7 linked regions of the Homo sapiens genome follow. The protein of the gene in region 1 purifies or fractionates together with the protein of each later gene. This does not show direct contact. Each region holds a gene or a part of one and is shown in the gene's direction. Other genes may lie near its edges.

Evidence for each region.
Region 2: the proteins of ATP4A (region 1) and EPHX1 purify together in Homo sapiens (affinity purification with mass spectrometry, with the first as the bait; one study listed by BioGRID). This does not show direct contact.
Region 3: the proteins of ATP4A (region 1) and CA9 purify together in Homo sapiens (affinity purification with mass spectrometry, with the first as the bait; one study listed by BioGRID). This does not show direct contact.
Region 4: the proteins of ATP4A (region 1) and SLC26A9 purify together in Homo sapiens (affinity purification with mass spectrometry, with the first as the bait; one study listed by BioGRID). This does not show direct contact.
Region 5: the proteins of ATP4A (region 1) and SLC12A2 purify together in Homo sapiens (affinity purification with mass spectrometry, with the first as the bait; one study listed by BioGRID). This does not show direct contact.
Region 6: the proteins of ATP4A (region 1) and ACSL1 purify together in Homo sapiens (affinity purification with mass spectrometry, with the first as the bait; one study listed by BioGRID). This does not show direct contact.
Region 7: the proteins of ATP4A (region 1) and KCNE2 purify together in Homo sapiens (affinity purification with western blotting, with the first as the bait; one study listed by BioGRID). This does not show direct contact.

Annotation. Positions count from the first base shown.
Region 1 is NC_000019.10:35,557,159-35,560,658, reverse strand, and holds part of ATP4A (potassium-transporting ATPase alpha chain 1), read left to right. Parts: intron 1-43; coding exon 44-296; intron 297-585; coding exon 586-854; intron 855-1,467; coding exon 1,468-1,666; intron 1,667-1,972; coding exon 1,973-2,082; intron 2,083-2,162; coding exon 2,163-2,297; intron 2,298-2,811; coding exon 2,812-3,004; intron 3,005-3,500. UniProt on the Homo sapiens protein: The catalytic subunit of the gastric H(+)/K(+) ATPase pump which transports H(+) ions in exchange for K(+) ions across the apical membrane of parietal cells.
Region 2 is NC_000001.11:225,830,624-225,834,123, forward strand, and holds part of EPHX1 (epoxide hydrolase 1), read left to right. Parts: intron 1-1,155; coding exon 1,156-1,336; intron 1,337-3,500. UniProt on the Homo sapiens protein: Biotransformation enzyme that catalyzes the hydrolysis of arene and aliphatic epoxides to less reactive and more water soluble dihydrodiols by the trans addition of water.
Region 3 is NC_000009.12:35,679,294-35,681,659, forward strand, and holds the end of CA9 (carbonic anhydrase 9 precursor), read left to right. Parts: coding exon 1-49; intron 50-560; coding exon 561-705; intron 706-819; coding exon 820-846; intron 847-1,459; coding exon 1,460-1,541; intron 1,542-1,671; coding exon 1,672-1,732; 3' UTR 1,733-1,866; downstream 1,867-2,366. UniProt on the Homo sapiens protein: Catalyzes the interconversion between carbon dioxide and water and the dissociated ions of carbonic acid (i.e. bicarbonate and hydrogen ions).
Region 4 is NC_000001.11:205,936,957-205,940,456, reverse strand, and holds part of SLC26A9 (solute carrier family 26 member 9), read left to right. Parts: intron 1-3,500. UniProt on the Homo sapiens protein: Ion transporter that can act both as an ion channel and anion exchanger.
Region 5 is NC_000005.10:128,184,766-128,187,471, forward strand, and holds part of SLC12A2 (solute carrier family 12 member 2), read left to right. Parts: exon of another isoform or gene 1-23; coding exon 24-91; intron 92-1,730; coding exon 1,731-1,866; 3' UTR 1,867-2,706. UniProt on the Homo sapiens protein: Cation-chloride cotransporter which mediates the electroneutral transport of chloride, potassium and/or sodium ions across the membrane. Plays a vital role in the regulation of ionic balance and cell volume.
Region 6 is NC_000004.12:184,815,969-184,819,468, reverse strand, and holds part of ACSL1 (long-chain-fatty-acid--CoA ligase 1), read left to right. Parts: intron 1-3,500. UniProt on the Homo sapiens protein: Catalyzes the conversion of long-chain fatty acids to their active form acyl-CoAs for both synthesis of cellular lipids, and degradation via beta-oxidation. Preferentially uses palmitoleate, oleate and linoleate.
Region 7 is NC_000021.9:34,367,006-34,369,443, forward strand, and holds part of KCNE2 (potassium voltage-gated channel subfamily E member 2), read left to right. Parts: intron 1-2,438. UniProt on the Homo sapiens protein: Ancillary protein that functions as a regulatory subunit of the voltage-gated potassium (Kv) channel complex composed of pore-forming and potassium-conducting alpha subunits and of regulatory beta subunits.

The DNA of each region.
Region 1 (3,500 bases):
CCCCACCCCCGTCCACCTCAACTTTGGTGCCCCTGCCCCGCAGCAAGCCACTGTCATCCGCGATGGAGACAAATTCCAGATCAACGCTGACCAACTGGTGGTGGGCGACCTGGTGGAGATGAAAGGTGGGGACAGAGTGCCCGCCGACATCCGCATCCTGGCGGCCCAGGGCTGCAAGGTGGACAACTCCTCGCTGACAGGGGAGTCTGAGCCACAGACCCGCTCACCCGAGTGCACGCACGAGAGCCCTCTGGAGACCCGCAACATCGCCTTCTTCTCCACCATGTGCCTTGAGGGTCTGTGAAGCCCCCGCCTGCCTGCCCAGTAACTGCTGCCTCCACTGGCCTCTCTCCTGCTATCTTCTAGGACAGGGGGCTTCAGCCTCCCTGTCTCTCTCCTGCATGACTGCCACCTCCCCGTGACTGCCACCTCCCCAGGGCACACTGCTTCTCTGTCTCCCACTGTCACTACCCTCTCCCAGGTCACATCCTCCACTGGCAGTGACTGGCTGTCCTTCAGCTCACACGGCAGTGCACACCCCACTGCCGCCCCCTATCCCTGAGTCGCGCCTTGGCCCCCCTGCAGGCACCGTGCAGGGCCTGGTGGTGAACACGGGCGACCGCACCATCATTGGGCGCATCGCATCGCTGGCGTCGGGGGTGGAAAACGAGAAGACACCCATCGCTATCGAGATCGAGCATTTTGTGGACATCATCGCGGGCCTGGCCATTCTCTTCGGTGCCACATTTTTTATTGTGGCCATGTGCATTGGCTACACCTTCCTGCGGGCCATGGTCTTCTTCATGGCCATCGTGGTGGCCTATGTGCCTGAGGGGCTGCTGGCCACTGTCACAGTGAGTGGGGGCAGGCGGGGATGCAGGGAGCTGAGGGGCCTGCTCAACCATCTGTTCTTTCCTCCACATTTCCCCCATCACCTCCCTGCCTGTCTATCTGTCCACTTAGCTCCCATCCATTCTCCTGCCTTCCCATCATCCACTCATTCAGCAAGTCCTTCCCGAGGCAACCCTGGGGCAAGTCCTGTGCCACACATTGAGGGCGCAGAGATGACGAGGCCGGGTCCTTAACTGGAAGAGGCTGATGTCCTGTGCAGGCAGCCAGCATGTCACCAGACCTTCCACAGTCAGCACCCAGCTCCAGACCAGTCCCCAGGGAGGTGCGGGGAAGGTTCCTCTTCTCATTTTGATTGTGTGAAGAGAATTTTCAGAACCTCGGCTGGGACAGCTCAGAGAGGGGCCTCGCTACTGTATCTGGGCAGACTGGGGAAGGAGTCCCAAACAAAGCACTGGCTGAACAAAAGCTGGGGCCAAGAAAACACCTGGTGTTTGCAGAAGCACGTTGCACACGCAGCCCCGCGGCTGGGGTAAAGCCTTCCCCGTTCTTTGACGCGGGGAAGAGGACTGGAAGCCAGGGTGGGTCCCCAGCCTGCGGTGCTCACCCCTTCCCCAGGTCTGCCTGTCCCTGACAGCCAAGCGCCTGGCCAGTAAGAACTGCGTGGTCAAGAACCTGGAGGCGGTGGAGACATTGGGCTCCACTTCGGTGATCTGCTCGGACAAGACAGGGACTCTCACTCAGAACCGCATGACTGTGTCCCATCTGTGGTTTGACAACCACATCCACACAGCTGACACCACGGAAGACCAGTCAGGTGTGGGGGAGGGAGGGCACAGGCGCCAGGGCAGGATCTGGTGGATGGTGGAGACCTGAAGAGGGATAGGGAGGTAGGGAGGGCTTTGTACGAAGGCGGGGCGGCTCGGCTCCAGGTCTCAAAGGAGACTCGCTACCGGGTCTAGAGGGAAGGGTCATCCGGGGGCTGGGTCCCTCAGGGTTGGGTGGAACCCAATTCCACCCAGGTCTGGGGAGGGGGCCCGCGATATGAGCCTAGGAGGAGGGGGCTCGGTTCTGGTCCGGGAGAGCCGCCGTGCGGGACCCAGCCTGGACGCCTGGTCTGCAGGGCAGACGTTTGACCAGTCCTCGGAGACGTGGCGGGCGCTGTGCCGGGTGCTCACCCTGTGCAACCGCGCCGCCTTCAAGTCCGGCCAGGATGCAGTGCCTGTGCCCAAGGTGAGAGCCAGGGGGCCTCCAGGGAATCCCGGGAGGCTGGTGTAGCCGGCTTCGCCCCTGACACCGGTCCCCGCTCCCAGCGCATCGTGATTGGAGACGCATCGGAGACGGCGCTGCTCAAGTTCTCGGAGCTGACGCTGGGCAACGCCATGGGCTACCGGGACCGCTTCCCAAAAGTCTGCGAGATACCCTTCAACTCCACCAACAAGTTCCAGGTGCGCAGCCGGCCCCGCCCACGGCCTGGGCCCGCCCACCTCGGGCCCCGCCCCAGGCCACACCCACATCAGCGGGCCACGAGGGGCTTCGCTCCTTGCCCCTTCTCTCCGCAGCCAAACCCCACCCCATCTCCCGCTCCGCCTATGGCCCCGTCCACCAGAGGCAAGGCCCCGCCCACCACCCAGCCCCGCCCACAGCTTCTCCTCGGCGGGACTGTCCATGGGGAGCACCTCGCTCTCCAAATCCGCCCCCAGCCCAACTCCGCACCCTAATTCTGTTCATTCCCTGCGTCCAGGACTCCAAATCTGCACCTAGCCCCGCCTTAACGCTTACCTTCTACCAAGGACCCCTCCACACAAGGCCTCCATCTTCCACCTTCACCCTTCCCCGCAGCTCTCAGAGCCCGCACCGAGCTCTCGGCCCCGCCCCTCTCCTCAGCCCCGCCCCGTTCCCTCGTCCACAGCCCCGCCCCGTTCCCCCGTCCACAGCCTCGCCTCTCCCCCCCGCCCACAGCTGTCCATCCATACGCTGGAGGACCCGCGGGACCCGCGACACTTGCTGGTGATGAAGGGCGCCCCCGAGCGCGTGCTGGAGCGCTGCAGCTCCATCCTTATCAAGGGCCAGGAGCTGCCGCTGGACGAGCAGTGGCGCGAGGCCTTCCAGACCGCCTACCTCAGCCTGGGAGGCCTGGGCGAACGCGTGCTCGGTGAGACCCCTGGGCAGGGGAGGAGACTCCAGGTGCGAGGAGGAGCTAGCACAGACCCTGCCCACCACTCCCGGCCCAGCCCTGACCGTCCTCATCCCTGGCTGCTGGCTGATTTGTCGCAGTCCACAGCCTCACCCTTGACTTTCCCTGTACCAGTCCTGACCCCTGTCTGTCCTCACTTTCTACCTTGACCCCAGTCCTCACCTGGACTTTTATCCGTATCCTGACCTCTAACCTCTCCCAATTTTTGTCCTGACGCCTTAAACTTCGCTGCCTCTACCCTAGAAAGCAGATCTGTGGTCCAATTCTGGGCCTTTTACTTGCTGTGTGACCTCTGGCAAGAAATGTCCCCTCTCTGAGCCTCAGTTTCCTCATCTGTAAGATGAGAATGGGCCTCACAGGGTGGTTGTGAGGGTAGATTCAGATAATGTGAGTGAAGGGGTCAGCACAAGGTCAGGCATCCATAGGTGTTTGGTGCAAGGGGCCTGGTTATTTT
Region 2 (3,500 bases), on another chromosome or scaffold:
CTGGCTAATTTTTGTATTTTTAGTAGAGATGGGGTTTCGCCATGTTGGCCAGGCTGGTCTCGAACTCCTGACTTCAAGTGATCCACCTGCCTTGGCCTCCCAAAGCACTGGGATTACAGGCGTGAACCACCGTGCTGGGCCTGGCCTGTAATTTTTATCCCAACTCAGTTATAATGTATCATTCAATGTTGTATATCAGGGGTCAGGAAACCAGGCCCATAGACCAAATGTAGCCTGCTACCTGTTTTAGCACAGCGCCCATGCCAAGAATAGTGTTTACCTCTTTAAATAGTTAGGGGGAAAAAAATCAAAAGAAGAATAATAGTTTGTGACGTGAAAATTATATAGCAGTCAGATTTCAGTGTCCATAAATTTTTATTGGAACACAGCCACCCCCATTCATCTGTGCATTGGCTATGGCTGTCCATAAATAAAGTTTTATTGGAACACAGCCACCCCCATTCATCTGTGCATTGGCTGTGGCTGCTTTCACACTATGAAGACAGTGGAGTCACTGCAGCCTGCAAAGCCTAGAATATTTACTATCTGGCCCTTTACAGAAAAAGTTTGCCGACTCCCGCTGTAGAGACGCCTGGGTAAATTAAAGATGAGTATCGTGTATACACTTAAAGAGTAAAAGATGAGCTGGGCGCAGTGGCTTACACCTGTAATCCCACCACTTTGGGAGGCCAAGGCAGACAGATCACTTGAAGCCAGGAGTTCAAGACCAGCCTGGCCAACATGGCAAAACCCCGTCTCTACTAAAAATGCAAAAATTAGCCGGACATGGTGGCTCACACCTGTAATCCCAGCTACTCTGGGAGCTGAGGCATGACTGGCTTGAACCTGGGAGGTGGGGGTTGCAGTGGGCCGAGATCACGCCACTGCCCTCCAGCCTGGGCAACAGAGTGAGACCCTATCTCAAAAAAAAAAAAAGAAAAAAGAAAAAAGAAATGCGAAGTCTACAGTGAAGAAGGAAGAAGTGAAGAACACATCCGCTTTGGGAGTAGCCAGTGATGTGGGAAACTGCCTTGCCACTCCCAGAGGGCAGTATCTTGTGGCTGCAGGGTTTGCTGTGTTTTCTGGAAACAGACTTTGCTCTTGTGCTCTGTCCTTCCCATCCCTCTCAACTTGGGGTCCTGAATTTTGCTCCAGGACTTACACCAGAGGATCGATAAGTTCCGTTTCACCCCACCTTTGGAGGACAGCTGCTTCCACTATGGCTTCAACTCCAACTACCTGAAGAAAGTCATCTCCTACTGGCGGAATGAATTTGACTGGAAGAAGCAGGTGGAGATTCTCAACAGATACCCTCACTTCAAGACTAAGATTGAAGGTATGTTTGCAAAACGCCAGCCAGAGAGGGATGTATGTCATGAGAACAGCCTTCTTCCACAATGTGACTTACAGTCAGATAAAGTTGGAGAGATTCAGAACCCAATTATAGGTGACTGAGATGTACTTATACGTTGTAACCTTACTAAATGCAAAAATATTGCAGTCACAACAAATCTGTCCATCTTTAGAGCTAGGCAGGAACACATACATGCAATTTAAAAACCAAAGAAATGCACCATCCAGTCCAATGATGTGGCAATCTTTGAGAGGAAGGATGGAGATGAGATTTAGACCCAGGCCAAGTGGGGTGGCTCAGAACTGTAATCCCAGCACTTTGGGAGGCTGAGGTGGGTAGATCACGAGGTCAAGAGTTCAAGCAGCCTGGCCAAGATGGTGAAATCCCATCTCTACTAGAAATACAAAAAATAGCCAGGTGTGTTGGCAGGCAGCTGTAATCCCAGCTACTCTGGAGGCTGAAGCAGAGAATTGCTTGAAGCCAGGAGGCGGAGGTTGCAGTGAGCCAAGATCGCGCCACTGCACTCCAGCCTGGGCTCCATCTCAAAGAAAGAAAAGACTCTGCTCTCAGTTCTTTTGGATCTATACTCAGAAGTGGACTTGTTGGATCATACGGTAATTCTGCGTTTAATTTTCTGAGGAACCGCCATACTGCGTTCCGCAGCAGCTGCACCATTTTACTTTCCCACCCAACAATGCCTCAGAATCCCGATTCTCCAAATCCTTGCCAATATTTTTTTCCTTTCTTTTTTTCGGTAATGGTCATCCTAATGGGTATGAAATGGTATCACATTGTGGTTTTGAGTTGCATTTTCCTAATGATTACTGATGTTGAGCATTTTTTATGCGGTACTTATTGGATTCTTTGTAATTTCTCCGAAGAAATGTCTGTTCATGTCTTTTGTCCATTTTTTGGGTGTTTTATTAGGGTTTAGGAGTTCTCTATATATTCTGAATAAAATCTCTTATATTTGCAAATGTTTTCTCCCACTCTGTGGGTTGCCATACAATTAATCTTTTTCAGAGACAAGGTCTTGCTGTGTTGCTCAGGCTGGAGTGCAGCGGCTATTCACAGGCGTGATCATGGCTCACCACAGCCTCGAACTCCTGGGCTCAAGCAATCCTCTCGCCTCAGACCTCCTGAATAGCTGGTACTATAGGCGAGCACCACTGTGCCCAGCTTGTTAATTTTTTATATTGAAGAAATTGTACATGTTAGGAATCTTATTTTTAATGTTTTAAGATAATTTGGCCTTTTCAAGGAACAGTGAAGATTTTAATTTGTTAAAATTCTAGGAATTACTTAAAGTGTATGAAAGACATGTTGGTCAGTCAGATAAACTAAAGTTCCTAAAAAAAGGAAATTGAAATTATAGTGTTAACTGGGTGTGGTGGCATGCACCTGTAGTCCCAGCTACTCAGGAGGCTGAGGCAGGAGGATTGCTTGAGCCCAGGAATTCAAGGCTGCAGTGAGCTACAAGGACACCACTGCACTGGGTGACAGATCAAGACCCCATCTCTTAAAAAAAGAGAGAGAGGCTGGGCACGGTGGCGCACGCCTGTAATCCCAGCACTTTGGGAGGCTGAGGCAGGTGGATCACGAGGTCAGGAGGTTGAGACCATCGTAGCTAACACGGTGAAATCCTGTCTCTAATAAAAATACAAAAAATTAGCCAGGTGTGGTGGCGGGTGCCTGTAGTCCCAGCTACTCGGGAGGATGAGGCAGGAGAATGGCGTGAACCCAGGAGATGGAGCTTGTGGTGAGCTGAGATCACACCACTGCACTCCAGCCTGGGCGACAGAATGAGACTCTGTCTTTAAAAAAAAAAAAAAAAAACAGGCTGGGCGCCGTGGCTCACGCCTGTAATCCCAGCACTTTGGGAGGTCAAGGCGGGCAGATCACAAGGTCAGGAGATCGAGACCATCCTGGTCTAACTTGGTGAAACCCCGTCTCTACTAAAAATACAAAAAATTAGCCGGGCGTGGTGGCAGGCGCCTGTGGTCCCAGCTACTTGGGAGGCTGAGGCAGAAGAATAGCGTGAACCCGGAAGGCGGAGCTTGCAGTGAGCCCAGATTGCGCCACTGCACTCCAGCCTGGGTGACAGGGCAAGACTCTGTCTCAAAAAAAAAAAAAAGAAAAAAAAAAA
Region 3 (2,366 bases), on another chromosome or scaffold:
TGTCATCTGGACTGTGTTTAACCAGACAGTGATGCTGAGTGCTAAGCAGGTGGGCCTGGGGTGTGTGTGGACACAGTGGGTGCGGGGGAAAGAGGATGTAAGATGAGATGAGAAACAGGAGAAGAAAGAAATCAAGGCTGGGCTCTGTGGCTTACGCCTATAATCCCACCACGTTGGGAGGCTGAGGTGGGAGAATGGTTTGAGCCCAGGAGTTCAAGACAAGGCGGGGCAACATAGTGTGACCCCATCTCTACCAAAAAAACCCCAACAAAACCAAAAATAGCCGGGCATGGTGGTATGCGCCTAGTCCCAGCTACTCAAGGAGGCTGAGGTGGGAAGATCGCTTGATTCCAGGAGTTTGAGACTGCAGTGAGCTATGATCCCACCACTGCCTACCATCTTTAGGATACATTTATTTATTTATAAAAGAAATCAAGAGGCTGGATGGGGAATACAGGAGCTGGAGGGTGGAGCCCTGAGGTGCTGGTTGTGAGCTGGCCTGGGACCCTTGTTTCCTGTCATGCCATGAACCCACCCACACTGTCCACTGACCTCCCTAGCTCCACACCCTCTCTGACACCCTGTGGGGACCTGGTGACTCTCGGCTACAGCTGAACTTCCGAGCGACGCAGCCTTTGAATGGGCGAGTGATTGAGGCCTCCTTCCCTGCTGGAGTGGACAGCAGTCCTCGGGCTGCTGAGCCAGGTACAGCTTTGTCTGGTTTCCCCCCAGCCAGTAGTCCCTTATCCTCCCATGTGTGTGCCAGTGTCTGTCATTGGTGGTCACAGCCCGCCTCTCACATCTCCTTTTTCTCTCCAGTCCAGCTGAATTCCTGCCTGGCTGCTGGTGAGTCTGCCCCTCCTCTTGGTCCTGATGCCAGGAGACTCCTCAGCACCATTCAGCCCCAGGGCTGCTCAGGACCGCCTCTGCTCCCTCTCCTTTTCTGCAGAACAGACCCCAACCCCAATATTAGAGAGGCAGATCATGGTGGGGATTCCCCCATTGTCCCCAGAGGCTAATTGATTAGAATGAAGCTTGAGAAATCTCCCAGCATCCCTCTCGCAAAACAATCCCCCCCCTTTTTTTAAAGATAGGGTCTCACTCTGTTGCCCAGGCTGGGGTGTTGTGGCACGATCATAGCTCACTGCAGCCTCGAACTCCTAGGCTCAGGCAATCCTTTCACCTTAGCTTCTCAAAGCACTGGGACTGTAGGCATGAGCCACTGTGCCTGGCCCCAAACGGCCCTTTTACTTGGCTTTTAGGAAGCAAAAACGGTGCTTATCTTACCCCTTCTCGTGTATCCACCCTCATCCCTTGGCTGGCCTCTTCTGGAGACTGAGGCACTAGGGGCTGCCTGAGAACTCGGGGCAGGGGTGGTGGAGTGCACTGAGGCAGGTGTTGAGGAACTCTGCAGACCCCTCTTCCTTCCCAAAGCAGCCCTCTCTGCTCTCCATCGCAGGTGACATCCTAGCCCTGGTTTTTGGCCTCCTTTTTGCTGTCACCAGCGTCGCGTTCCTTGTGCAGATGAGAAGGCAGCACAGGTATTACACTGACCCTTTCTTCAGGCACAAGCTTCCCCCACCCTTGTGGAGTCACTTCATGCAAAGCGCATGCAAATGAGCTGCTCCTGGGCCAGTTTTCTGATTAGCCTTTCCTGTTGTGTACACACAGAAGGGGAACCAAAGGGGGTGTGAGCTACCGCCCAGCAGAGGTAGCCGAGACTGGAGCCTAGAGGCTGGATCTTGGAGAATGTGAGAAGCCAGCCAGAGGCATCTGAGGGGGAGCCGGTAACTGTCCTGTCCTGCTCATTATGCCACTTCCTTTTAACTGCCAAGAAATTTTTTAAAATAAATATTTATAATAAAATATGTGTTAGTCACCTTTGTTCCCCAAATCAGAAGGATGGTATTTGAATTTCCTATTACTGTTATTAGCACGAATTTAGTGGTAATGCATTTATTCTATTACAGTTCGGAGGTCAGCAGTCAGATGTCAGTAGGGCTTGTTCCTCCTTCCACACATCACTCCAATCTCTTGCTCCCATTGTCACAACTCCTACCTCCACATTTGACCTCCTTGTCTCCTCAAGAACCCTTGGGATTACACTGGGCCTAACTAGATAACCAAGGATAATCATCCCATCTCAAAATCTTAATCACCAAGTTTCTTCCCATGTAAGATAAGAACAATGCACAGGATTAGAACATGGACATCTTTGGAGAAGGGGAATTATTCTGCCTACCACAGATGCTATCAGGAAGAGGACAGAAATGACTGATACTGTTGGGATGGCTGTGTGTGTGTGTGTGTTTGTGTGTGTGTGCAGTGTATGTGTTGAGGGGTAGGGCAGACAGCAGCCCTAGGCT
Region 4 (3,500 bases), on another chromosome or scaffold:
ATCCACTCGGGCACTGTCTCTGCCTGAGCCCATCTCTGCCCAAGCCCATCTCTGCCTACAATATTTGGATGGTGTTGACAGAGACCTGGTTAGAAATGTGACTGGGAGAAGGTACCAGGGGCGTGCTTTGGCATGAGCTCATTGGAGGAGAAATCCTGGAGAATCTCAAGAGGGAATCTGCTCCAGCCTGTGCCCTCCCTGCAGGGTCTATTTTCTCTTTGCTTCCCCTCTCCCAGCTACTCCGGCTCGCACGACCCCTGCATCCCCTCTGCTCCAGATTTGACCCACTCTCCTGCCAGTGCATGGGAGTGGCCCATGCACCCACATCTCCTGCCCTCTGCTCTCCTGGCTCACCCCCTACTCCCCTTAAACCCTACAGACCCCCTCTAAGTCCCTCCAGCTCTTTAGGACCTGCCCCCCTTCCCTGCACAGTGGAGGAGGGGCAGGGTCACCCTTTTGTTTCTCAGTATTATCACATGGCACCTGCTATTTATCCCTGGCCCGGTAGGGGGATGGAAGGCAGTGGAGGGGTGGTGGGGGCAGGGCTTGTAGATACACGCCTCTGGCAATAGGGCACTTGACTTTTTTTTCCAGCGATGCTGACATCACTTATCATGGCTGTTTGTTTGTTTAACTGGGGATCAGATTGTTATGTTCCCTATACCTGGCTCTCTTTCTTGCTCCCTCTTCCACTTTCCTGCCCCTAATGTAGCATCTGGCATCGTGAGACACCCTCTCTGAGGATTCCCTGGGACTCCCATCCCTGCTAGTTCTCTGAGACTCCTCCTCCCCACCATGCCACCCACCCTTTTCCACCACTCCCATCCCCCTTCCCTCCACCTCTTGCCCTCACCTGAAGGGCTGGCTGGGGATGAAGTACCCTTGTCTTCTACGTCCCACCCCACCTCAACCCCTATTCTTGGAATTAGGAAGTATGTTGAGGGCGCCTTCTCAGCAGGAGCTGGGGCAGTTCCTGTGGCTGCAGATTTGCAACTCTGGCCATCATATTCTTGGGAAACCAAGGCCAGGAGGGAACCAGAGCCCTCAAGAGGAGTAACAGAACCCAGAGGTCCTGTCCCATCAGCTGGGGTGGCAAGGTCACCAGGGTGGTCAGAAAGGGGCATTCTGAGTGCCACTCAGGGGAAAACATTGTCCTGAGATCAGCTTTGTCCCTGGAAGGTCTGAAGCCCCTTCGAATAGGAACACTGGAGTTAAATCAAGTGCAGTTTCTTTATCTGCAAAATGAGACAATTGGACAAATGTGGTCCTCAAGTTCTCTTCTACACAAAACTTTCTGACTCTGACTGGCTGCTGGGTTCTCCTCTTTATGCAAACTCAGGATTGTGAAAGCTCCCAGAGCCTTCTCCCCTTCAGCATCCTATTCCTGGGATGGGCAGATGGCATGGGAAAGAGACAGATTTGGTATTCCAGTAAAGCAAGGGAGGCTTTTCCTCTGTTAGCCTGTGTCAGAGGGGACTCCCTAGTATCTGGTGCTCCATCTGTCAGTGAGTCTGCCCAGAGGGGCAGAGCTGGTCCTGAGTCACCTACCTGTTGCTCTCTGAAGGACTTCCACCACCCCTGCCGCTTTCCTCCCAAAGAAAAATGGCCAAAGCCAACACTAGTGTACAGGCTGGAGGGGTGCACATGGAGATCCTGGGAGAAAGAGAAATCCTTCAGGGTTTCAAGGTGGTCAGGAAAGGCTTCATAGGCAAGAAGGAGAAGGGAAAAGAGTGGGAGAGGAAGGAGAGGGTTGGAGGAGGAACTTCAACAGGTCTTAAGGATGGGCAGATCTAGAAAGGCAGAAATGAGTCAGGGCACCTCAGGTAAGGAGGAAAGTGGGAACAGAGACTCAGGCTTGTTTGGTGGGTGCAGAACAGACCAGCCCAGATGGTGTGGAGGGACCCAGCCAACAGATTTCCTGAATCCACCAATACAAGGCCAGAGGATAAAAAAACAAAAATGCCAAAATAAGGAGTTTGGGCCTCATCCTCCTGGAAATGAGGGAGATAGAGGTTTCGGAGCAGGGAGTTTAGGCTGGGTTGGAGGGGCATGGCTGGAGACCAGCAGATCAATTTTTGCAATAGTCCAAACATGAGATAAGACTTGAAGAGGGAGGCAATGGGACAGGGTGGGTGGAGGTATGGAGGCAATGGACAGGACAGAAGGACATGAAGGAAGGAAGGAAGGAAGCGAGGGAGGAAGGAAGGAAGGAAATAGCAATAGGATTTGATGAACAACTGAATATGGAGGCTGAGGGGTAGGGAGAGGACAGGAACAAGGATGGGGGTGGGCTGGGTGGCAGGAAGAAAGGTACCACTGAGGAAGTGGGGAAATCCTGGGGACGGGGGCTGGGATAGTAGGGTTCAGCGGAATCAGATGCTAATAACTCCCTTCCCCGCAAACACACTACCGGAACTTAGACCCTTTGAAAGCAGCCTAGGAACATACTTCAGGGATCGCTGCCTGCTGGTTGGTGTGGAAGCAAGATCACCCATCACCTCCTCTTCCAAAGGGCTCTTCTTTTCTGACTCAGCCCCCCTTGAAATTTTTGGCTATTTTTTTTTTTGCAAGTGGTCTGTTTAGTGGCCTGGGCTAGACTCCCCAAACCATGAGTCTTTTTCTGAAGCAAGGTCTGCAGCTCTGGGTTCCTATGTGGGGAGGTCATGCTCCCCACTCATTGAGCCCCCGCAGGCAAACCACCTGGACAGCCAGACCCATGCAGACTCTGGAGCAGGTGGAGAGGAAGAGTGAGACCACCCCGCCTCACGGGCGGTGAAGGGCCGGCAGCCTCTGAATAGTCTCTGCTAGGAGGTAGAAAGCACCCTCCCATCTTAATCATAGTAATCATCGCCACTACCATTTACTGGGTGCCTATAAAAGGCCAGCCTCTTCATACACATGATCTCACTGAATCCTCATAGCATCTGCCTGCGACTGTTATTATCCCCATTTACAGATGAAGAAACTGAATCTTTGAACCCAGGTCATCTGGCTCTCAAACTTGTGCTGTTTTCCCTAAGCCACCCGGTCTCTCATTTCTCCCACTGAAATGTCTCACATGCCATTGCCCTTACTCATTTCTGCCCATGTCTCCTCCAAAACACCATTTATCAATTCGCTCAACAAGTATGTGTTGAGTACACACTAAGGGCCAGGCGAGGGGCTGGGCACAGGCGCTGGGGGTAGGTTCATTCTCCCACCTTCGCTTCTGCTGGGTATCACCTGTGGGGTCTTGCCGGGCATCCCACCCTCACCTGTAGTTCAAGTGGACCTTGGGATCCCAAGACCAAATGAATGGAATGCACCAGCCCAGCCTTCACCAACTTGAGCACAATCTTATTCATAATAGAAACTCACATTTGCATCACACTTTACATTTTACACAACCCCTTCTTATCCATTAACTCATTTGATCTTCACAACAACCCTGTGAGATATGTCTGTTACTCCCACTTTAGTGATACAGAATCTGAGGTTTGAAAAGTAATGCTGACCATTCT
Region 5 (2,706 bases), on another chromosome or scaffold:
ATGACTGTCCTGTTTCATTTCAGACATACCGGCAGATCAGGTTAAATGAGTTATTAAAGGAACATTCAAGCACAGCTAATATTATTGTCATGTAAGTAATATCTTTATAAAGATTTTCTTGCTAATTTATGATAATATGCTTTGAATTAATTTCTATTCCAAGTACATATCTATATAACACCCATATTGACTTAGTGGTTATAAGGAGGAAAAAACAAACTTGTAAAAATATACTATGCTTTAAGCATATGGAGAAAGACAAAAACTTTAACCTTATGCTTATATGAATCCCAAGTAATCTTTTTATCATAGTAGGTTATATTGGAACCTTTTGTTTACCCTTCTTCTCACCTTTTTAAAATTCCTTATCTTTGTAAACACTACAGCATAGCCGTTAAGCACGTGTGGATAGGAGGGTCCTACGTTAAAATTTGGGCCCCGGACAGCTTCCTCTTGAAAATAATTCAAAAAATGTTATTTGGCAGATTAAACTTGAATAGTGATTCCTATCTGGATCCCCATTCTTATGTTTCCAACACGCAAATTTTACATACAGACACATTGTCCTTGAGTTAAATATGATACTAAATGCCTACTTTGGCTCTTCCTCTACTGAACTAGGTTAGCTATTCTTTGAACCCACATTTTCTGAGTTCTGGAACATGTGTCCTTAGATAGGAAAGCTCAGGCCTCTCCCCCACAAAAAAAGCCAAGTAATGAAAAAAACTACCAAAAGATTGTTAGTTTAACAACATTCAATAAATCAAAAAGTTTCAAGTTTTGCTGATGATAATCAAATACCTGTAAATGGAAAAGACACCAAAACATAGAAATTTAGAGAAAAACTATACAGCAATTGGTCACTGCTGCCACCATCCATAAATAGAAATTAAAACTAAGAGAAGATAAAAATTGCATTTATCCATATATAGCTTCTGTTTTCTAAATTTTGATAGTAAACATACCTTTCACCTAAAAGAATTCTATTCTTATTAAAGAAGGGGAAACCTAGGATTTAGTGTTAGATATCAGAGGTACTGTGGTTTATAGAAATACTTACTGTTCTTATGAACAAATTTTGAAAAATCTTTTGTTGAAAGATTATAGTCTTTTATATATGCATATATGATGGTGGTACCATAAGATTATAATACCATATGTTAAGCTGGGCATGGTGGTGTGCACCTGTAGTCTCAGCTACTTGGGAGACTGAGGTGGGAGGATTGCTTGAGATCTGGAGTTTTGGAGTTTTGAGTCCAGCCTGGGCAATGTATTAAGACCCCATCTCTCTTAAAAAAATATATATATATTTTTACTGTATCTTTTCTGTATTTAGATATGCAAATGCTTACCATCGTGTTACAGTTGCCTATAGTATTCACTACAGTAACGTACTATACAGGTTTGTAGCTTAGGAGCAACAGGCTGTGTCATATAGCCTAGATGTGTAGTAGGCTATACCATCTAGGTTTGTGTAAGTACTCCTGTGATGTTTTCACGAGGGCAAAATTGCCTGACAGTAAGTTCTGAGAAATGCGTCTCCATCGCTAAGCAACACAACTGTGGTTGTTATTCTATTTGCAGAATTCTCCTGCACTCAGAAATATTCTGTAATTATAGTAATTTACAGTAACTGTTATTGTAATCTACTTTATAATTTTTGCTACATTTTATTCTGTAAATGCATTGCTCAGGGTTTTTTTTTTTTCTTTTTCTCTTTTTGATACCAGGAGTCTCCCAGTTGCACGAAAAGGTGCTGTGTCTAGTGCTCTCTACATGGCATGGTTAGAAGCTCTATCTAAGGACCTACCACCAATCCTCCTAGTTCGTGGGAATCATCAGAGTGTCCTTACCTTCTATTCATAAATGTTCTATACAGTGGACAGCCCTCCAGAATGGTACTTCAGTGCCTAGTGTAGTAACTGAAATCTTCAATGACACATTAACATCACAATGGCGAATGGTGACTTTTCTTTCACGATTTCATTAATTTGAAAGCACACAGGAAAGTTGCTCCATTGATAACGTGTATGGAGACTTCGGTTTTAGTCAATTCCATATCTCAATCTTAATGGTGATTCTTCTCTGTTGAACTGAAGTTTGTGAGAGTAGTTTTCCTTTGCTACTTGAATAGCAATAAAAGCGTGTTAACTTTTTGATTGATGAAAGAAGTACAAAAAGCCTTTAGCCTTGAGGTGCCTTCTGAAATTAACCAAATTTCATCCATATATCCTCTTTTATAAACTTATAGAATGTCAAACTTTGCCTTCAACTGTTTTTATTTCTAGTCTCTTCCACTTTAAAACAAAATGAACACTGCTTGTCTTCTTCCATTGACCATTTAGTGTTGAGTACTGTATGTGTTTTGTTAATTCTATAAAGGTATCTGTTAGATATTAAAGGTGAGAATTAGGGCAGGTTAATCAAAAATGGGGAAGGGGAAATGGTAACCAAAAAGTAACCCCATGGTAAGGTTTATATGAGTATATGTGAATATAGAGCTAGGAAAAAAAGCCCCCCCAAATACCTTTTTAACCCCTCTGATTGGCTATTATTACTATATTTATTATTATTTATTGAAACCTTAGGGAAGATTGAAGATTCATCCCATACTTCTATATACCATGCTTAAAAATCACGTCATTCTTTAAACAAAAATACTCAAGATCATTTATATTTATTTGGAGAGAAAACTGTCCTAATTTA
Region 6 (3,500 bases), on another chromosome or scaffold:
GATAAAGTTTGTGTTGAGTACATCTAGGCTGGGTGTGGTAGCTCACGCCTGTAATCTCAGCACTTTGGGAGGCCAAGGCAGGTGGATCATCTGAGGTCAGGAGTTCGAGACCAGCCTGGACAACATGGTGAAACCCTGTCTCTGCTAAAAATACAAAAATTAGCCAGGTGTGGTGGCAGGCGCCTGTAATCCCAGCTACTCAGGAGGCTGAGGCAGGAGAATCCCTTGAGCCTGGGAGGCAGAGGTTGCAGTGAGCCAAGATCGTGCCATTGCACTCCAGCCTGGGGTATAGAGTGAGGCTCTGTCTCCAAAAAAAAAAAAAAAAAAAGTACATCTAAATGGTACGATGCCCATGTTGGCCTATTTGGAATGCCATTCCTTGTCCCACAGAGCCCTGCTCCTCAGAGGCACTTTTCCTGGAGTGACTCTCCCCTTCCTCACCTACACTCACTGTCATTCAGCTGTAGATGCACCAGCGATCATGCTAGTGGTTAAAATATCGAAATACTCCCATCCTGGCTAGAGAATAGCTGCTACCCAAGTGCCCCCGCCCTTCATATGGAAACTAAAGGGTTAATACATGGGGCAGTAGAGGAACTTTGGAGCCCTGTTTTGGTGCACTGGCCTGTGTCTTTTCTGGCTGGTTGGTGTCTGGCCGTACTGGCTATTAAATATTTTGATGAGCATCCCAGCCTCTGTCCCACGTGCATCTTTTCATGAGTGCATATCTGGCTTCCACAGATTGGCACCCCAGCCACACTCTAAGCTCTGGGCACATGGGAGACCTAGTCATTGTCATCTCTGTGTTTTCAGCAGCGTTTAATACAGGGCCTTACCGCTAGTAAGCATGTAAGATTATCTAATGATGGATTGAGGGTAGGGCAGGTTCCGATGGTCAGATGTCCCATAGAAGGTGGTCCCTAACAAGAATATACATTGTAATGTTCCAGGTTTGTCTATTCTGATACTGTGCAAAACGTAGATCTTATAGCCAAGATCAAGGCATCGAAAGTCTGTGGACCTAAGCCTGTGCTTTCACTGAGTGAAGTTTGTGTTTCGGAGTACATCTGAGGTGTTTCTTTCCGTGTAGTTTCACTTGTGTTGGAGAAGCAGGTGGCTGTGGTCTTTGCAGGGTGTGAGAGGGGAGGAGATTAGTGTTGAGCTCCAGCTAATGTTACATAACTCTACTGTAGTCTTCCTTTACCTGGTATTCTTGTGTTCAAATTGCCCCTTGTTTCTGTGCCACTAGTGAAATGGTCAAATGGCTCATTGTTCCTTCTGTAGGACAGTTACCTACATTGCGCCTCAGGCAAGCTTCTGAGGCATCCCAGGATGGGGAGCTGGCGGGGGACCTTATCTGTCAAGCAGCCCAGCCAGGCACCTCACAGTGGACGGAACTGAGTTCTTGAGGGGGTGGCTGAGCAGCCCAGACTCCCAGGTTAGACTCTGAAGACAGCCAGTCTGTGCTTTTCTCTCCTGATGTGAGTCAGAGGCAAACTCTGCCGATGCCAAGACCTCCCTAGAGTTCAGGCAGGGTGAAGATCCTTGTCCTTGGGGTCAGGGCTGAAGCTTCAGGGTGTCCAGGACAGACCTTCAGAGGAGGCCAGCCCTGGAGCCTGGCGTGGGTCTCGGCCTCAAGCCTCTCTGTCCTGCAGAGAGGCCGGCTCAGTCTCTTCACCCTCTCAGGCAGGCCAGGCGACGGTCACCAGTAGCGTCCTGCTCTCTCTGGCATGCTTCCCTTCATCACTGGGTGATGCTGAGTGTCTTTTCCTCCCTCTTTGATGTGACAGTCCCTTTTTGCAGGCTTTTGCAGGCACTGTCCCTCTGCCTCCCAGGTGTGGCACGCATTTCAGGGTGCCTCCATTAGCAGTTTCATGCATTGTTGCCCATGGTGGGGAACAGATGGAGACACAAGGCAGGCAAGCCACCAAAGAGGCTGCAGGGCTGCTCAGGAGATGGAAGGACTGTCTCCAGAGTGGGGTGTATGCCCCATAGTGGCTGCCTAGACCATCCATTAGATTGTAGAATAGAATAGAAACATTAGAACTTCTATGGATAGTTATTTTTTGGCCATCTTTTAAATTCATATTTGTGTGTTTTCTAATGGTCAGAAAATACTTGTATATGGTTTATAGATAAAAGCATTTAATGTGAGGGGTGCATTTATTTATTGGGGTACATCATCAGAAGTCTAGAGAACCAGAAAGTTAACTCCTTCTCTAGCACCAGTATCATGAGAGACCTCTGAATGCCATTTTTTAAAAAGGAAAGAATTTGTCAATTAAAGGGGAATAGAAACTGCTCTCTGGCTAGGTTGTGATTCATGTCAAATAGGCCTGTGACTTAAGGAGAGTCAGGTTAACTCCAGAGTATGTTTTGTCTCTGGTCCCAAAACTTAGCAGTGTGGAAGCCTCATTGGGATCAGGGTTTTATTTTTTTCTCTTTTGTTTACTATCATATCCCCTGAGGCTGGAGCTGACTTGCATATCCTCAATATTTGCAAATTGAATATATGGGCGTTTTTCTTGCATGATAATTAAGTATTATGCTGAGTTGGATGCTTCAAGTCAATATTCAGGTTGCCTCCTTTTGTTTAAACCTTTGGGCAGTTGGCAAGATGCAGCCTACATGCCAGTCAGTTTTACTGTCCTGCACATGATACCCCCACGCGGTAGAACCATAGAGCCGTGGAGGCCTCAGAAATGTCACCTGAGAGACAGGGTGTTGGGATGTAACTTAAAGTAATTTTTTAAGAAGTGGGTATAATGAAACAGCAAAACGTTGATCATTACTGAAGCTGAAGTTGGAGTCACGGGTACATAAAATATAGTTTTATTATACTTCTGTGTCTACTTTTGAATAGATTTGAATTTTCATAATAAATTTTAAGTGAAACATAAAGGGAATATAGAGACCCCAAACTAGTATCACCCATTCCGAGCAGGTAATGGCCGAACTGCATAGTCTCTTTTTCTTTCTGTCTTTTAAACACTGGTCATTATTCTATAATCTTCTGCAACTTGTTAGGTTTGTTTTGATTTTGGCTTCCCCAGAGCCAGTCACCTCTTTTTATAGTTACCTGAGCTCTTTGTGTAATTTTAGCTCATGTCTCGTGGTTGTCACCAGTACCTCTCTTCTCCTTCCCAATACGATGAGCTAAATCCTGGTTAACCTTTTCCCTATTTCACTTGTTGCTTCCTCCAACACCACTGAGGTCTTCCACATGACAGGCACAATTCAGAGGCCAGAACAGGGTCCCATGTTTTTTGCAGGCTGCGTCCAGTCCTGGGGAACCTCATAGCCTGTGATTATCTTCTAGATTCCATTCATGTCTGCTTTTTTTTTTTTCTTTTGGATGGCGTCTCTGTTGTCCAGGCTGGAGCGCAGTGGTGCCATCTTGGCTCACTGCCGCTGCGCCCCCCACAGGTTCAATCGACTCTCCTGCCTCAGCCTCCGAGTAGCCGGGACTACAGGTGTGTGCCATCACGCCTGGCTAATTT
Region 7 (2,438 bases), on another chromosome or scaffold:
AAAAACAAAACTAACATGGTCATTTGCAGAAGGGGCAGAAAAAGGGTCTCTGCCTAGACCTGGGGAGGTCAGGGAAAGTACTATGGATTGGTAACAACCGGCTGGGCTTCCTACAAGAGAAAAAGACTATACTCACAGAGCCAGACCCCATCTCAAAAAAAAAAAAAAAAAAAAGTCTGGCATGGTGGCTCAAACCTGTAATCCCAGCACCTTGGGAGGCTGAAGCAGGGGGATCACTTGAGCCTAGGAGTTTAACAACATAGTGAGACCTCATCACTACTTTTTTATTTTAAAAAAGAGTTAATAAAAAATAAAATGAAAATAAAAGGGTAAAAGAGCCAGTGGCAAAGTCTTGAGTGGATTAAAGCCAGCTCAGCTAACTTTCACAGCAGACTATATCATTTTAAAGGGGAAAAAGCACATCTCTGTTACATTGCTTAGGAAATATGCTTGGTATATACCCTGGGGCAATCTTATCTATTTGTTAAGTTTCCTTCCAACCCACTAGCCTGTGTGGCCAGGAGAGGGAGACAAAGATCTTAGAGCTCTCTAAATAATAGAACTTAAAACATCAGACAGAGAAGAGTATATTATCTTGGTGATGGTAATTCTCAATGAGGAAAATCCTGGGGAGGGATGTTCTGTGGGAGAATGCCTGCAAGTTTATTTGTTTAGTAGGTTTGATTATTCAGCTGATTGAAATTCCTTTCCCAGATGGGGAGATCTGATTCTCTTTTCATGAAGGAAAGAAAAGTCACATGCTAAAGAGACGGGCATGTCTTTAGAACGGCAGCAGGCAAACCCACTGCTGGGATCCTGGGGCTTTTACTAGTGGCTAGTCACAGGTTTACCTCCTGCCTGTGCTCCTTCTAGCTGTGTTGAAACCCACTTGCCCCATCTATGAACCGTGTTCAGCTCCATTTTCTGAGCCCCCTTATCTTTTTGTCCATACCTGTTGCAACTCTTTGCACGTTGCATTGTCATTGATTTGGTCTCTCCCATTCAACTGAGCCTCTCACAGAGTTCCTGTCACCTCTGCAGTTTCATCGCCTAGCATAGTACCTGGCACTTTAATTCATGCATCAAATGTCCATTGAGTGCCTTCTATGTGTTAGACATCTGCTATACCGAGCTAGACAAAGTTGGCAGACATGACAGCCGAGTGGAAAAGATGAGCCCCTAAACCAATAATCACACACACACACACACACACACACACACACAATATATATATATATATATATATATATATATATGTATGTTATATATATGTATGTTATATATATGTATGTATGTATGTATTAAAAAATCTTGGCCGGGAGCGGTGGCTCACACCTGTAATCTCAGCACTTTGGGAGGCCGAGGCAGGTGGATCACGAGGTCACGAGATCGAGACCATCCTGGCTAACATGGCGAAACCCCGTCTCTACTAAAAATACAAAACATTAGCCAGGCGTAGTGGCGGTTGCCTGTAGTCCCAGCTACTTGGGAGGCTGAGACAGGAGAATCACTTGAACCTGGGAGGCAGAGGTTGCAGTGAGCCAAGATCGCGCCACTGCACTCCAGCCTGGGTGACAGAGCGAGACTCCGTCTCAAAAAAACAAAAAATTTTTGCCTTGCAATCGTTTGCCTTGATGTTATGTCTAAAGCCCCACAATTCTCTAAAAACAGAGATGTATAAAAAAGCACACGTATATAATTCTCTGAAAACAGAATATAAATGAGTCATTGCTCCATTTAACTGACATTTGTTGAGTGCTTGTTATAAATATGGCATTATTCTAGCTGGTGTGAGGTTACCAATTTTTTTTAAACAAAAGTAATATGAATATATACACACACATTTAGTGACTGCATATGTGATGTGTGCTTTTGAAGAAAAAGGAGATGCTGTTGGAGGAAAATGGTGGTGGTGGTGGGAAGTGATTTAGAGTAGAACCAGGGAAGTCTCAGAAGTGACAACTAGCTGGAACCTAAAGAACGAGGAGGTAGCAGGTGGAAGAGAAAGGCAAAGGCATTCTAGGTTGAGAGAATAGGATGTGATAATGTCCCGAGGAAAGAGAGCTTACTGACAGGGAGGGAAGATGTCAGGTGTGACCGAACTGTAGTGAGCAAAGGGTAACTGAGGAGGTGGTCAGGAGCCTGCTCAGCCAATGGGGTAAATACTGTTAAGGAATTAGGACTTGATTTTAAGAACAACCATCGCATCATTTTAAAAGCAAACAAATTGCACTATAATTTCCCTCTTCAAAAAGGCACATTGGCTGTGCACGGTGGCTGACACATGTAATCCCAGCACTTTGGGAGGCTGAGGCGGGTGGATCACCTGAAGTCAGGAGTTCGAGACCAGCCTGGCCAATGTGTTGAAACCCCGTCTCTACCAAAAATACAAAAGTTAGCCAGGCGTGGTGACATGTGCCTGTAATCCCAGCTACTTG